Regions from separate parts of the Homo sapiens genome. Here region 2 is linked to region 1. A link means that fine-mapping ties the variant in region 1 to the expression of a gene that starts in the linked region. Tissue or cell type: esophagus muscle. Region 1 holds a variant in brackets; the other region holds the start of a gene. All regions are shown on one strand. Distances are from middle to middle.

Evidence for each region. PIP is the estimated chance that this variant, and not a neighbour inherited with it, causes the effect.
Region 2: LINC01366 starts here. The variant in region 1 is fine-mapped to the expression of LINC01366 in esophagus muscle (GTEx, PIP above 0.99). The same link has a PIP of 0.9 or more in gastroesophageal junction, sigmoid colon and tibial artery.

The regions. Positions count from the first base shown.
Region 1 is chr5:170,375,447-170,383,549 of GRCh38, forward strand. KCNMB1 (potassium calcium-activated channel subfamily M regulatory beta subunit 1) reads right to left here. Exons shown (of 4, transcript NM_004137.4): 4 at 1-3,527. The coding sequence ends at 3,258. It also overlaps a transcript of KCNIP1 not described here. Among named protein-coding and RNA genes, the nearest start is that of KCNMB1, 9.9 kb to the right of the region's middle. The variant T/C (reference allele first, on the strand shown) is at 3,551.
Region 2 is chr5:170,326,990-170,335,092 of GRCh38, forward strand. LINC01366 (long intergenic non-protein coding RNA 1366) reads left to right here and starts at 4,404. Exons shown (of 2, transcript NR_108025.1): 1 at 4,404-4,588; 2 at 6,145-8,103. RefSeq lists enhancers at 841-940, 3,707-4,906, 4,471-4,640, 5,706-6,555, 6,472-6,521 and 1 more.

The DNA.
Region 1 (8,103 bases):
CAGAACTCCAACCTGCATGAGGGCACCTGGGTTCCAGGGATGCAACGCAGCTCCCTGCCTGGCCCCTGTGGCTTTGAGTGGCTGTGTCCCTCAGCCCTTCACAGCTGGCTCTGCCCCTCAGCCCTTCACAGCTGGCTCTGCCCCTCAGCCCTTCACAGCTGGCTCTGTCCCTCAGCCCTTCACAGCTGGCTCTGCTGAGTTCTGTGGTTGAGATGCCAGGTACTGGAACACACAGCTCCAGGCTTGAGTCCTAGCCCCTCACTTTACAGATGGCCTTGGCCAGTTACCTCTTACAGCCTCAGTTTTTCATAGTAACTTAGATAGCACTTACCATATGTCACTATCCTAGGAAATTTACATAAAAATTTGTTTCATGCCAAAACTCTATGGAAAGATACTATTATCAGTTTCGTTTTGCAAACGAGGAAACAGGCACAGAAAGGTTATTCGTCCAAAGTCACCCAGCTTGTGAACAGCACAGCTGGAATTTGAACCCAAACAGTGCACATCCCAAGTCCACATACTTAGCCACTGTCCTCTGTTGCTTCTCATCATCTGTGAGGCAGGTTCAGGAGTATCTCATTTTTTTTTCCAAGGCAAACTAATTAGTACAGTGCCTGGCACAGAATAAATAAGCACCCATACATGCCAGATAACATTGTCAGTATAACTTCTGGAAGTTTCTGAGTATTCATGACTTATTCTTTTTTTTTTTTTTTTTTTTTTTTTTTTGAGACAGAGTCTTGCTCTGTTACCCAGGCTGGAGTGCCGTGGCGCGATCTCGGCTCACTGCAAGCTCCGCCTCCCGGGTTCACGCCATTCTTCTGCCTCAGCCTCCTGAGCAGCTGGGACTACAGGCGGCTACCACCACGCCCGGCTATGATTTTTTCTATTTTTTAGTAGAGACAGGGTTTCACCGTGTTAGCCAGGATGGTCTCGATCTCCTGACCTCGTGATCTGCCCACCTCGGCCTCCCAAAGTGCTGGGATTACAGGTGTGAGCCACCACGCCCGGCCGACTTTTTCTTGTTACTAACAATAGCTCTTTTTCCCTGATCCTCTCCCTCCTCCTACCTCCCGCCCTCCAATAGGCCTCAGTGTGTGTTGTTCCCCTCTTTGTGTCCATGTGTTTTCATCATTTAGCTCCCACTTATAAGTGAGAATATACAGTATTTAGTTTTGTGTCCCTGTGTTAGTTTGCTAAGGATAATATTTGGCCTCCAGCTCCATCCATGTCCCTGCAAAGGACATGATCTCCTTCCTTTTTATGGCTGCATAATATTCCATGACGTATACGTACCACATTTTCTTTAATAATGGGTACTAGACTTAATACCTGGGTGATGAAATAATCTGCACAACAAACTCCCTTGACACAAGTGTACCTATGTAACAAACCTGAACGTGTACCCTGCAACTTAAAATGAAAGTTAAGAAAAAAACACACACACAAAACAAACAAAAAAAACTATAGTTGCCATTTTAAACACCTATGATGTGTCAAACATTCCTTCAGCCCTCCCAACTATCCAGAAAGAGTCCTTCTTTTATAGATGAAAAAACTAAGAATCAAAGAGATGAAATCGGGCAGAGTAGAGACAGGATTCAAACCCAAGATCTGCATCTTGGACTCACAACACTGGAAGAAACTTCAGACACCAGCCTAACTTCACACCCAGCTCAGGACTGGCCCTGCCGAATGGTCACTCACCTGCTCTGAAAATCCTCGCGACAGGACGCTCACTTCCTACACCGGTAGTTCTCTGGCTCGAGGTGTGCCACAGAATCCCCTACGCATTGTTAGAACACAGAACATTGCTACCCCCACCCCGTGCAGGGCTTCTGGCGTGGTGGGGCTGGGACAGGGGCCTGAGAGTGTGCATTTCTCACAAGCTGCCACAGGATCCTGATGCTGCTGGCCCAGGGACCACACTTGGACAGTCATCGTTCTAGGAAAACTTCCTGGAGTGGGAATGGTAAAGGTGATGGCTTCTTCCCATTTTGCCCTTTTCAAATCTGAGATAGGCTTCCCCAGCAGGCTCAGTGCCAGAGTCCATACCCTCAATTTAAATAACAAATCCTCCTCTATATCATGACCTTTCCTCCAGAGGGTTGTTTTTCATTTTTTGTTTTTTGTTTTTTTTTTGAGACGGAGTCTTGTTCTATCACCAGGCTGGAGTGCAGTGGCACAATCTCGGCTCACTGCAAGCTCCGAACCCCGGGTTCACGCCATTCTCCTGCCTCAGCCTCCTGAGTAGCTGGGACCACAGGTGCCCACCACCACGCCTGGCTAATTTTTTGTATTTTTAGTAGAGACGGGGTTTCACCATGTTAGCCAGGATGGTCTTGATCTCCTGACCTCGTGATCCACCAGCCTCGGCCTCCCAAAGTGCTGGGATTACAGGAGTGAGCCACCGCGCCCGGCCCAGAGGGGTTTTTAAGATTGTGTGTTCTGAATGGCCTGTCTCTGACTGGAACCCAACTCCGTCCCCAGACCCACTTCCATCTTTTTCTGTGAGGGGGACACACTCTTTCAACTTTTCCAAAATGGCATCTACCATGGCTTTTCTGATTAAAAGCAAACGAAACACACCCTTCCTATAATCAAAAATTTAGAAAAGCAGCAAAAATAAAAAGGGGATAAGGAAGAAAACAGAAATTAACCACCATCCCACCGCTAAAATTTTGATGAGTTCTCATGTGTTTCCTTGCAGCTGATTGTTGTTTGGCATACATTTATTAATATTGGAATTAAAAATATATATGGCACTTTATATCCTAGAAAATAGTAATACTGTAAATGTGTTCTAGAAATGGGAGCTGCTGTTGCTCTTATTAGAGAATTCAAACAAAGAAGGGAGGCTCGCTGGGGACAGCTTCTGGGGGAGGATGGGTACCGCTTTGAGACAACAGGGAGAACTCAGGCACAGAGGTGACGATCATCGTTCTCTGTGGGGCACATAGTGATGCAGCCGGAAACAGGTATGAGTCAGTTGAGTGGGGACAGGTAATAGAGAGCTAGAACTGGCTGGCCTTATGGCCTCCAAGGCATTGGGGAGCCACTGTACATTCTTGAGCAGGCAATGACTTCACAAAAGGATTTCTCAAAGGTTAGTCCTGCAACAGAAGACAGCGTGGATTGGACTGGAAGAGTGGGAGGGCAGGTGGAGAAGGCATTGTGCTGCAAGTGGGGAGCAGCCCTGGGGGCCCAGCCAGTCCCCTGTGCCCTGACAAGTGGTATGGCATGGATGGATGGCTCTACTTCTGGGCCGCCAGGATGGACAGGTACTGGTTGCTCTTCACCATGGCGATAATGAGGAGGCCACCGGTCAGCAGGAAGGTGGGCCAGAAGAGGGAGAAGAGGAGGGCCTGGGGCCCGTAGAGGCGCTGGAATAGGACGCTGGTTTCGTTCCCCCGAGGTGCGGAGAAGCAGTAGAAGACCTGCTGCTCTTGGAATTTGGCTCTGACCTTCTCCACGTCGGCCCGGGCCGTCTGGTAATTGTCCACGCTGCCTGGGATGTAGGAGCACTGTGGGGAGAAACAAGAGCAGC[T/C]GTGGGCTTGGAAATCCCCATTTCTTAGCCAAGGGCTTGATATGGAGTAAAGAAAAATACCAGCTTTGTAGTCGGGCCCCTGGATTGGAGTCGGGGCTTTGGTCTAAAGCTTGGCAGGCCATGCGCTGTACAGGTCTGGAGAGCACGCTCTCATTTGTGTCTTGTGTGTGGATGGCGGTGCTGGAGCTGCTCGGGGTACAGGCTACACACCTGGGCGCAGGTCCTACCTTGGAGTCCTGGCTCTGCTTGGATTGGCTGTAGAATTTTTGGCAAATTTCTCACTCTTTCTGAGCCCTGAAGCTTCATCACTTAAATGGGTGAATATCGGTTTCAAAGGATATTATGAAAGAAGGACTTCACACAGAGCTATCTAAGGAAACCAGGGAGGGACACAGGCCAAGTGGGCTGTGTATTTGAAATCGAGATCATGTGCTCAATTGCCTACAGGGCTCATGAAGGTATTGTCAGAGGGTGAAGCAGGCAAAGCAATGAGATGACAGGTGCCCACTGACTCTTGCCTTGGTGCCAGGAAGAATTGCCAGGGTGTGGCAGGGCCTGTCAATAGGGAGAGAGCCAGCTGCCTCCAGACAGGCAGTCACCACTCCCTCCAGGCAATGGATGTCAGGCCATCCAGAAGATCTATAATAGCCAGACCTCCAACACTTTAAGAGAAGTTAGAAACCAGATCACACCTGTAATCCTAACACTTTGGGAAGCCGAAGGGGAAGGATCCCTTGAGCCCAGGAGTTCGAGACTAGCCTAGGCAACATAGCAAGACTTTATCTCTACAAAAAAAGTTAAAAATTATCCAGGTGGGCATGGTGGTGTACCTGTAGTCCCAGCTACACAGGAGACTGAGGTGGGAGGATCACCTGAGCCCAGGAGTTGGAGGCTGCAGTGAGCTATGATCTCGCAACTACACTCCAGGTAAGGCAACAAAGCGAGATCCCATTTCAAAAAAAAAAAAAAAGTAAAATATTAGCTAAATTTAAAATTGAAAACCTTTGCAGTTTCAACCTGTGTACAGCAAACAAACTATGTTGGCAAGCGGGTATTTGACACTGGGATCCAAAGGAAAGAAAGAATGCATTGAAAAGAGTTTTGTGCCAGCAGAGCATGACACACATTTAATTCTGACGTTGATTATTGTTATTAGGAACTTTCTGCCCTGTTCAGATGAGGCCAGCTGGAAAGTGATGCAAAGCAGTCATAAAGCGGAGTTTTATCTGGTTTTATCTCTGTTCTGAGCTGCAAGTGTGGTGCCCCCATCTGCAGCAGAATACCTACAGGGCCCCCATAGCCCAGGTCCCTACCCACTCTGCATCACTGAGGGCGAGACCCAGGAATGTGTGATTCCTTCATGCACTTAATTTTGCCCTAGTGAAATCATGTGCAAGATCAAAATGTGTAAAACTGAGACCCAAATGGCAGGTGTTGAGCCAGATTCCTTGCAGGCCTCGGCCACTCCCTGGATTTATATGAGGTGCCACCCTGGAAGCTGCCTGCCCTGAGGGCATTCACTCCAGCAACACAGAGGAGGGTTGCACTGTAGTTCTCACAGCCTGGGAAATGCAGATGCTGCACTCAGATCTAGGGCCCCAGCCAGCCAGGGAGTAGCTGAGGCTGGGGAGACGCTGGCTCCTCAGGAATCTGGCATTCAGAGCTGTTGGACACTGCCAGGTCCTCAGTAGCATATAATCCAGCATCCTGAGCTGACGGTGAGGGGGCCTGGCCTGAGTCTCTCCAATGCCTCTGACTGTGACCTTGGCTAACCTAGCTCCTTAAATAGCAGTGTGGCTATGGAGTCAGACAGGCCTGAGTTCTGAGCTGTGTGACCTTGGCAACTGCCACAACCTCACTGGGCCTTGTAAAATGGGTTTGTGAGGCTACCTGCCTAGGAGAACTGTCATGGGGATTAAATGAGATGATGCATGTAAAGCACTGAGCACAGAAGCCCAGCACACGATAAGAACTCAAAAAAGTGGAAGATGCTATTATTAATAATAATATGTTTTGACTTATCTATGAAATTGCAACAACAGCTCCTTCTTTACCTTCTTAAAAAGAGGTCTATGGATGAGCTCTGAAGTAGAGGCTTCTGTCCATCCTGGGCCTAGTGTATCCTCTGCCTGCTCAGGGTTCCTCTGGATCTTTTATGCTGGGCCTGTTTGGCAAGACACTGGGCAGGAATTCACTCTTCATGGCCAAACCCAGAAGCCGGGGCCTGAATGCATCCTTTCTCTCCTGTCCTGGGTCCAGCTAAGCCTGAGTTATCTGAATGATCTGAAACCAACCAGCTTTTTCCCAAGCCCTGCAGTGTAAGGTCCCCAGGACAGACAATGGGAGGGAATTTAGAACTCACCTGCTCCAGGCTAAGACTCACAGGAAAAGCTGAGGGCAGACTATGGCCCCTACCTTCAGAGTTGGAGGGTGGGATGAGAGTCTTCTTGGCCCTTCACAGTGATTCCAGAGGACACCCAGCTAGCCTGGAGCCCCAGCCACTTGAACCCCTATGATGGACATAGGCGGAAGGAGCAGCTAGCCCACAACCCAGCTGCTTGGCAAAAACACGAAGGGCATTTCCACTGCTTCCTCCCAGCTCCTGCAGCCTGCTATCAGCACCACACCTGGTCAAGCCTGGGCGGCAGGGGAGAGGACAGCAGTGGCTCCAGCATGTCCTTCCTTCACATCCTGCTGACAGTTCATTCAGGGGATGCTCCTCTGAGCTGGCAATCTCAGGACCAGGGAGGCAGCCTGAAAACCAGCCTGCTCTGGCCCATATCACTCCCGGAGAATGTTACCAGTTATTGAAAATTTGTTTCTTGCATTGGGATAAATCAAGGGCTACTGAATGCCAACGCAGAGGCAGGGGTCATGGGTAGGAGCTGCCTCCAGTGGGCCCTGAGACCTCTCTCCACCGGGTGGGGCCGAGTCATACTAGCGATGACAGAACACCTGACCATCCTGCACTGCCCAGACCCACTTCTCATTGACCTTCAGCACTCTCAAGATCCCCCAGCCTCCACGCCCCATCCCAGGCACCCTGCCCCTTCCCGTCCCATCAGCCATCAAGTCCGGACTGTCAGCATCTCCCCTGCTGCAGGCCACATCTTGGTCGTGAGTGCTTGCTGCGGCCTTGGCTCCTCTGTCTAGTAACTGGACCCACACACCTGTAGGCTCCATCTTCCCAGCCCAACTCTGAAACTCTGATCATGCCCTAAAGATTCCCATTGCCAACAGCAATAATTTCCAACCTTAGAATCACCTTGGGAGCTCCATGAATGGATCTCTGACCAGAGATTCCACCTTGATATGTCTAGTGTTGGACCCTAGTTTTGTTTTTTAAGACTCTTACAGGGTTCTAATGCATAGCCAAAGTTGACATATCTTGAGACATACACACTCACATTTTAATTCCATATTGTGGTGATCAAAGGCCTCTGGGAACAGACCTTAGTCTGCCCTGACAGCCTTTTCCAGCTGCATACACCCCATCATGGGTCATTTTCTGTAGTCAGCCCTCTGATCCCTGTCTCCACCTAGCCCTTCCCTCCGCCATGCCTCGTCCTATAGGCATACCCGCTTCCTATATCACCTCATTCTCTATGCCTTGCATCCTGCGCCTGCCTGATGTTAAAAGCCTAATCCAAGAGCCTTTCTTTTTTTTTTTTTTTTTTTTGAGATGGAGTTTCACTCTTGTTGCCAGGCTGGAGTGCAATGGTGCAATCTCACCAAGAGCCTTTCTGATACCCCCATCATTGTCAGCTGGAAAACATCCCCCTCCTCTAACCCCTGTAACTTCCTCTGTTCTTCTCCCCGGTGCCAATTCTTCCCTGCTAGGCACTGTTCATGCATGAGCTCTCTCCTCTTGAGTCCTACAGGCTTGACACAGGAGGTGCTCAATGGCTGTTGAATAAATAAATGAGAGGAGGAAAGAAGGAAACAAGGAAGGAAGGAAGGAAGGAAGGAAGGGAGGGAGAGAGGGAGGGAAGGAGGGAGGGGAAAAAAAAGAAAAGAAAGAAGGAGGGAAGAAAGGGAAAAAAGAAGGAAAGAAAGAAGGAAGGAAGAGAGACAGAATATGGGCCAACTGATCGCTTTAGGAAAGGATATGGTGGTGAGTTTTGTGTTTTGGAGGGGGAGGGTGGGATGTTGGGATGCAAGGATGGAAAAACCATCTAAATGTTTGTTTATGGAGGTTACTCCAGCCCTGAGTCCCTGGTTTCCTGGGGAGTCACCGGGATTCCACTTTGAGGATCTGGCCCTGGGCCTGGTCCCTCATTTGACTGAGGTTGTAGAATGAAAGTACTAACACTAATCACTGCTTTTGTTTGAGTGCCCACTATCCACTCAGCATCAAGCGTGGCACTTTATATACAGCGTCTCTGACTTGATAACAGCTCTTCAAGGTGCAGCATTAGCATTCCACTTTACAAGGGTGGAAACTGAGGAGGTGAGAGGCTAAGTGGCCTGCCTATGTTTACACAGCCAGTTAGCGGCAGATTCAAACCCAGGTCTGTGTGACTCCAACACAGAAGAGCTAGGGCTGGCTCAGT
Region 2 (8,103 bases), 48 kb before region 1:
TATTTGTAAGTTGAAACTTCAGGGTAGGAAGATCCTGAAATGCTTCAAGCACCTACAAGCAAACAAAGGTTTGCAAATTAAAATTAACGGTAGAGCACTAACAAAGATGTGCAAATTGCCTCTGAGGTTGTTTTTACTCGGTATGCTTTGTTCACTGCTTTATATTAATCGAAGTAAAACAATTTGTAGGGATATTAATAACTTTACCATCAACTCGGGTTCCTCTAACCCTAATATTCCCTTGAGATTTTAAGTTTCGTAATCATAATTTGTCCTAAGTGCCCACGGTGTGGGAGAAGCTGTGTATTTATGTTTCTGCAGATGATCTATCCTCCTACTTCACAGCAACAAACCTGAGGCTATCAGGCATAACTGCCCCATTTCCTGTCCTCCTACCTAGAAGCTTATTTATAACCTTCCCACCCTTGCCCCCTTCCTTCGAGACTCAGAGAGCAGTTCAGGGTTGGCCACTTATTGTGTCACTTGTTCCTCCCCTTCCTAATTCTTTCAAGGCATTCACTTTTTTTTTAATCAATTATTTTATTTCTTCCTCAAATTGTTAAACTTTACACACCAACTCTTCATCACAGCCCCCAAAGCCTGTGAATCTCATCTTTAAACAGTGAATCATGTCCTCCCAAAGCAAAACAAATCAACCACCCTAACACCTTCTCTCTGCCTCTGTTCTCCTCTGCCTCTTGCCTCCTGTCTTTTCCCAAAGCCAAGGTTCTGCAGAAGACCATCTACACCTGTCGTCTGCATGGGACTTTCATTCCTCAGTACCCAACTCTCCACCGAGAGCCCTCTGACAAGGTCACTGAGATGTCCCCAAAACCCATGCCAGCAGCCTCTTGTGGTCACCTTCTTGCTAGACTTTTAGCAGCAGGTGACACCCATGACTGAGTGTCTGCTTGGTATTCTCCCCTCCCCTGGCTTCCAGGACCCCTTTGGCTAGTCCTCGTCAGCCTCCTTTGCTGGTTCCTCTTCCTCTGCTCACCCTGATAAATATCAGAGCTCTGTCCTTGGTCTTCCTCATATCAAGCCCTAATACACTCTTGCTACACAATCCAACTCCCCCCAAGGCCACCCTCAACTCCAGTGACTCTCAGATATACACTGCCCCACAGAATACCAAAAGCCAACACGCAACTTGTTTTCAACACTCACTATGTGCTAGGCACTGTTCTAAGCATTTGACCTATGTTGTCTCATCTAATCTTTACAACCCTATCAGGGTGTACTATCATTAACATCCCATTTTACTGAGCACAGAGCTCAAACAACTTGCCCATGTCCACACAGCATGAAGCCAGGATTCAAGCCCTGTCCCACACTGTGCTCCTTGCAGAACATCTCCACCTCAAGGTTTTTCATCCACCTCTAACCTACCATGCCCCAAATGGAATTCACAATCCAAATGGAATCCTTTCCCCCAAACTGTTCTCCTTGTATTTCCAGGGGAAGATCCAGGCTTGGTGGAGCCTGAGGATTCTATAATTGGCCAGGAAGGGGCTCTTTAGGAAAAAATAAATAAAAAGAAAACAATGAATACAAGAGTAGGTTTAGGACCTTGATAGTGGATGTGAAAGGGAGGGATTCTCGCACATAACCTTCATTAGCTTCATGGTGAACCCCACCCCATACATTTTGTATTCCAGTGGCTAGCATCTAGTCATTCCAGCAGGGGCATGGAAAATTCTTCTCTTTATATTCCCTCCCTCTTCCCTTCTTCATCCATATGGAACCATGGATAGCACTCTAGTTCTACCTTCCTCAAGTCTCTAGAATCCCTCTTTACCTTTTCACGTACACTATCCTGATTAGCTCAGGTCCTCAACATCCCACACTCGGACCATAGCCATAGTCCACTCTGTCTATTCCTGCCACTTCCTGGACTTTCCCCAACACAGTTCCTGTGCTTAGCAGGGTGACCATCAGAAACATGCATCTCATCAACCCTTCTGTGATGGTCCATTTTCCTCTGACTAGCATCTACATTCCTTAGCCCAGCAGTACCCAGCACAGGTCAATCTTGCCAGCTTTACTTTTCCCTGTGCTCTCCTTTTGTTCCTTTCTTCAACAAATAATTATTGAGGACCTATTCTTGAGTACTATTATGAAGTGCCAATAGTAGGGTAATTGAATGCTAAACACTGAATATGCAGTAGCAATCAAGACCAGATCTTTCACACCTCTTGTCCCATCACACCAAATAGCTTGCAGTTTTTAGACTCTAAGACTGTGTTCAGCTTCTTTCCCTTTTCCTAGGCTGCAGGGAAGCTTTTAAATTCATTGATTACCTGAATAATAACCACTTATCCTTCGTGGATCAGATACAGTGTTATCTCCCATATAGAGCATTTTCTGATCACCCTCCAGCAGCAAAAATGGATCCCTTCCTCATTTCTATCCCAAATGTGCTTTTGAGATCTGATATTCCCTCAGAACACCTAATATACTTTGATGCAACTACTTGACTATTGAGAAGGTCTCCCTCATTTCAAAGCAAACATTTGGATCAAAGAGACATCATTTTATTCATCTCTACATCCTCACTGGAACCTGCCATATAGTAGACACCATACATTCATACATACGTACATTCACCAACTCATTCATCTTCATCCATCCATCCATCTACCCATCCATCCATTCATCTATCTACTCACTAATCCATCTACCTACTCACCCATCCAACCATCCATCTACTCTTTCATCCATCTACCTACCCACTTGTCCATTTAACCATCTACTCATCCATCTACCCACCCACCTGTCCATCCATCTACCATTTTATTCATTTACCTACCCATCCGTCCATCCATCCATCTACTCATCCATCTACCCATCCACCTGTCCATCTACCCACTCACTCATCCGTCTACTCACCCACCTGTTTATCCATCCATCTACCCACCCACCTATCCATCCAACAAATATTTCTGAATGTCCTCAATGTCCCAGCCATTTCTCCAGACTCTTTGGATATAGAGAAGAACAAGAAAGAAGAGGCCTCTGCTCTCACTAGCCCTACATTCTAGTGTCTGTTGCAGGGTCAGTGAGGGGTGGGTAGGGGGTCACAGACTACGGAAATAAACAAAGTAGGTGAGTGAGAAGTACTGTAAAGTAAATTAACAGAGCAATATCCCAGAGGGTACTACTTTAAAAGGAATGGTCAGGTCACCTTACAAGAAGGTGGCCTTTGTGATGAGTCCCAAATGATAAGAAAGGAAGCAGCCAAACAAAGAGAGACAGAAAGTCCTGATGTGGGAATGAGCTTTGTGTGTTTGAGGAACAGAAAAGAACAGAGTAAGCAGAGGAGAGGACAGAGATGAAGGCAGGGAAGTTAGGGAAAGTGTAAGAACTTGGAAAATACAGGAAACTCAGCAACAGCCAGACCTGATTTTGAATCCTTTCTCTAGCATTCATCTCTACACGTATGACCTTAACCAAGTCACCGCACCTTTCTTAGCCCCCATTTCCCCATCATGGAATGGGGACACAAGTACCTATGTCATTGGGCTTAGGGGAGAAAGTTCGGTAAAATGTCTGACACATGATAGATTTTGACAAACATTATTTCCTCTTCTTTTCTTGCTTTAAACATATAATGATGCTGTTACCTTAAAAGTTAGGTTATGCCATTAGAAGGCGCCTTTGTTCTTTGCTCTTGTTCTACCAAAATGAGAAAATGGCAAAAATCGCAGGGTGGGTCTCAGTTCTCCATTTTGTTAATATCCAAGTTGATATTTCCCTTTTGCGACAGTAACAACAACATGCAAACCAAAAACTGAAACAGCTTCAGTTCTGTGCCCTCAGGATCCAGCGTGGGACTCGTGAGAACCCTCCAGAGACAGCCACATTTCGAAGCAAGTGGCACAGGCTTTGCAGAAGGCACACTGGGCCCCTCTCAAAACTCAAGCAGCAAAGATGATGAGAGAGCTGCAGACTTCGGGGCGTGGAGGATGGGACTAAGCCGCAGAGTGCCTTGTCTAACATGTTTTAGGAAGCACCCTTCTCTTTCCCGACTCACATGGGGCAGCTATAATAATTCAGCTTCACGTGGCTGAATTATTTTCTGTTTTCACTTGGTTCTTTTTTTCTTCTCCTTTAAGAAAAAAAAAGTCCAAATAGGCTTTGGGCCACACTGGACTACCTAGTAAGGGGGATAGATGATCTAGATGATTTGAGAGCTGGTTTTCTGAAAAGCCAGGGAGCTCTGGTCTTGAGAAGACTCAGTAGCCAGGAAGCTGAGGAACACACACACACACACACACACACACACACACACACACAAACACACCCCTTCCTGGCTCCAGTTCCGCACCACCCCACACCCCCAACACCGGAAGTAGATTTCTCAATAGGCAGGGCTGGGTATGAGTCACAGGCAATTCCGTTTTGTTTGGGACCATGAGACCTCCCACTCCTGGGGCCAGAAGGAGTTGCTGAGAAGGAGCTGTGGTTCTGACCTTCAGGGGAATTCCCACGTCTGTATGGTGGCTCGTGAAGAGCATGGTTCCTTTTCTCAGCCCTCTTGAGGGGCGAGGATGCTGAGGACTGAAGTCGGTGGGGCTTGATGCATGTGGTGTGTGGATGGTGTGGGGAGGTGGGGAAGGAGGACTAACATGAATGGTGTGAGGTCTTTCAGAGGGGTCTTCCCAAGGTCACATAGTTGACGGGGGGTGAGTACTCACACTCGTGCAAAGGTGGGGGATAGGAAGGGAAACTGAGGCCATTAGTATTTGGCACCATAGCTGGTCTCTGAGGCTTTCAAATGTTCCCCCAGGAGGTTCAGCCTCTGTGGGGAGAAGCCAGGGGAACCCCATGGCACATCCCCAGCCCTGCCTGCTACCCGCCTCTGCCATCTCCCCTTCCCCTGGGCTATGAGGGGAGGTAATGAGACCTGTGACTCATACAGTGCTCTCCTTTTCCCTCCTATCAGCTCAGACTAAGCAGAGAAGTGGGCAGAGCTCTTTCACCAGAGGTGGAGGGGCCTGTTGGGGAGGGGACCCACCAAATCCTTGGGGGTGGTTCTCAGCTCCCCGGAGATAGGGGAGATGAGACCTCAGGAAGGCTCTGATCAGGCGTCTTCTGTTCTCTTTCCTTTCTTGGGTGGGAATGATGCTTCCCACTTTTGTGGTCCACCTGCAGGCCGCCTTTCATCCTTCTTCAAGTCACAGAGAGACAGAGAGGAGGGGACGAAGGACGAGCCATGGGGTTTTGAAAGCAGGCACAGCAGCAGGGGTGCTGCCTCCAGGGGTCTGCTCTGCCAAGAGTTCCTGTCCCAGGTGTCTACAAAAACAGTCAAACTCTATAAAATACTTGGAGATTTATTCTGAGCCAAATATGAGTGACCAATAGCCCGTGACACAGACCTCAGGAGATCCTGCCCAAGGTGGTCAGGTTACAGTTTGGTTTTATATATATTAGGGAGATACAAGAAATAAATCAATACATAGAAAATGTACGTTGGTTTGGTCCGGGAAGGCAGGACAACTCAAAGCAGAGGCTTCAAGTCATAGATACATTCAAAGATTTTCTGATTGACAATTGGTTGAAAAAGTTGTATTATCATCTAAAGACCTAGAATCAACAGAAGAGAATGTCTGGGTTAAGATGAGAGGTTGTGGAGACCAGGGTTCCCATTATGCAGAGGAAGCCCCAGGTAGCAGGCTTCAGAGAGAATAGGTTGTAAATGTTTCTTATCAGAATTAATTCTCTCCTGGAGCACGAAAAGGAAGGGGATTCTCTTCGAAATATAGATTTTCCCCACAAGAGACAGCTTTGCAGGACTATTTTGAGATACAGCAAATAAACATAACTTGGGGCAAAATACTTTGATTTTTTTTTTTCAGGGCCTGCTCTCTGTCATGTGATGCTATACTACAGCCAGGCTGGAATTTGGTGTCTTATTGCTACAAAGAATCAGCTTTGTCAATCCTAAGGTCTGTTTTAATGTTAATGCTGGTCAGTTGTGCCTGAGTTCCAAAAGGGAGCAGGAAATAATGAGGCACGTTCGACCCTCCCTTCCCACCACGGTTTGCACTAGTTTTTCAGGTTAACTTTGGAAGGCTATTGGCCGAGGCGAGGGGTCCATTCAGATGGTTGGGGGACTTAGAATTTTATTTTTGGTTTACACAGGTCACTGAGAGGCTGCCAGAGGGCCATTTTCATGACCAGAGGGATCTGTTCAACACCCTGTGGGTCCCAGCACCTATCTCAGGAAGCAGGGTGCATCTGTCCACCACCAAGTCTCAGGGTGGCTGGGTGAGCGCTCATCAGTCCCAGACAGCAGGTTGGCACAAAACGACACTGCCCACAAAACCACAGGAAGAAGAGAAACTCCGACTGTCTTTCAGCACACAGAAGACACTGTACTGGACCCGGACATTAGGCAGACACCCACGCCTGACTTTCAGGAGAAAAGAGAACATGACTAACGGATATTCTTAGTAGATGGTTTATTAGAAAAGAGAACATCTTCCAGCATGTGTCCTGGGGTGATGGGTGTGGGAAGCACTCAGTCCATAGTCCTGGTCCCTGGCTTCCCCAAGCCCAGCACCATGAATGTACAGTGGAAAGCAGAGGGTGCAGCGTCTCAGAAAGATGCTTCCACTCACAAGGATTGGAGCTCACAAGTGAGCTCCATAACCTGCAAACCAGAGAAACCTGAGACACTGCCCCTTGGCCATTTTATCAACGGAGACTTTATTGTGATTATCCCGGCAGGGGGCCGAGCTCTCCTCTCTGCAACAGGAAATGCTCTTTAGTGAAAATGCAGCATTTCTCCAAGGGTAACAAAGCTGAACGCCTGCTTAGCTTATGAACCCTCAGTTGGCCTAGGTGGTGCAAAGACCCTGCTGTTACTGCTTTGATCATCAGTACTGTGGACTGTACCAGGAGATCCCTGGGAATGTGCTCTGGGCGGAAGCAGCTTTTATCTTTGGCCCTCACCCATGCTTTATATGGTGAGGTTGGGAAAATGGCACAAGGCTTCTCCTGAACCTCAAATCAACACCCTTGCCCCATTTAGATCCTATCTGGCTGTTTCTTGCTAATATTACTGCATCACTGCACCATCTTTCCTATTTCAGCAAAGTGGAGTCATGTGTGGTTTATGGGGTAGATGGACCCCAAAACTGATAATATGAATCAAGCTATGGTGTTTACTCCCTAGGAAATGCACAATTTTTCTGGAAACCTACAGAAGCTTCAAATGCATTCGCCATGCAAAGCTAAGTCAGCAGAACAACCCGTTTGGCTTTGGAGGCTAGTTCAGTTCCGCGGACAGGGAGAAAGATGAGGCAGACTGTGGTTTTTCAGTTCCTGGAGCTTACGGAGCTCCAAAGCTCCCTCTCTTCCCACCCTGGCTGCACTGTTCTTAATTTTAGATAATACCCTGCCTTCTCGTATTGCTGCTGAGCTCCTAGCATCCTCAGTTTATCTGTCTGTGAAATGAAAAATCTAATGTTAAATTTTTTACCTATGGCATGAGAGAGATGGCTATGGCTCTTGTGAGCCTCTCTGCAGCCCCTCTTTTCCTTCAATCACCCTCTGTCTCTCCTGCCTTCTGCTTATTCTCTCTCTCCCCTCATCCCCACTTTCCCAGTGGGTCCTCTGTTCTCTTTTTTTTTTTCTTTTTAAATCTCTCTATGCCTCCAGCCGAGAAGATAAAGAGTGTACATCTTTCTGGTTAAAAAGTTTTGCTTTGCAGAAACACAGCCAATTTATGATTCTGGCCTTCCCAGCTAGGGACAGTGTTCATTTACATTTAGGACCATGAGGAGAGAGGCTTAGCTGTGTGTTTCTGAGGCCGGAGAAAATTACAGTGATATATAACAGTGCTGCACTCATAGAGGTGCTGAGCCGGGGTTGGGCTCAGGCGGCCGCTAAGCTCAGAGTGGAAAGTTTCAGAGGGGAGGCAGAAAGGAGAGGTCTATAGCTCCTCCAGATTCTAGGTATTAATTTACTAAGATATTCCTAAGCCAGAAAACAGAGACAGAAGACAAAGAGAAAGAGGGAAGAAGAGCAAGACAGAGAGTTAGAGAGAGACAAAGAGAGAGAGTTAGAGACAAAGAGAGAGTGGAGAGGAGAGAGAGC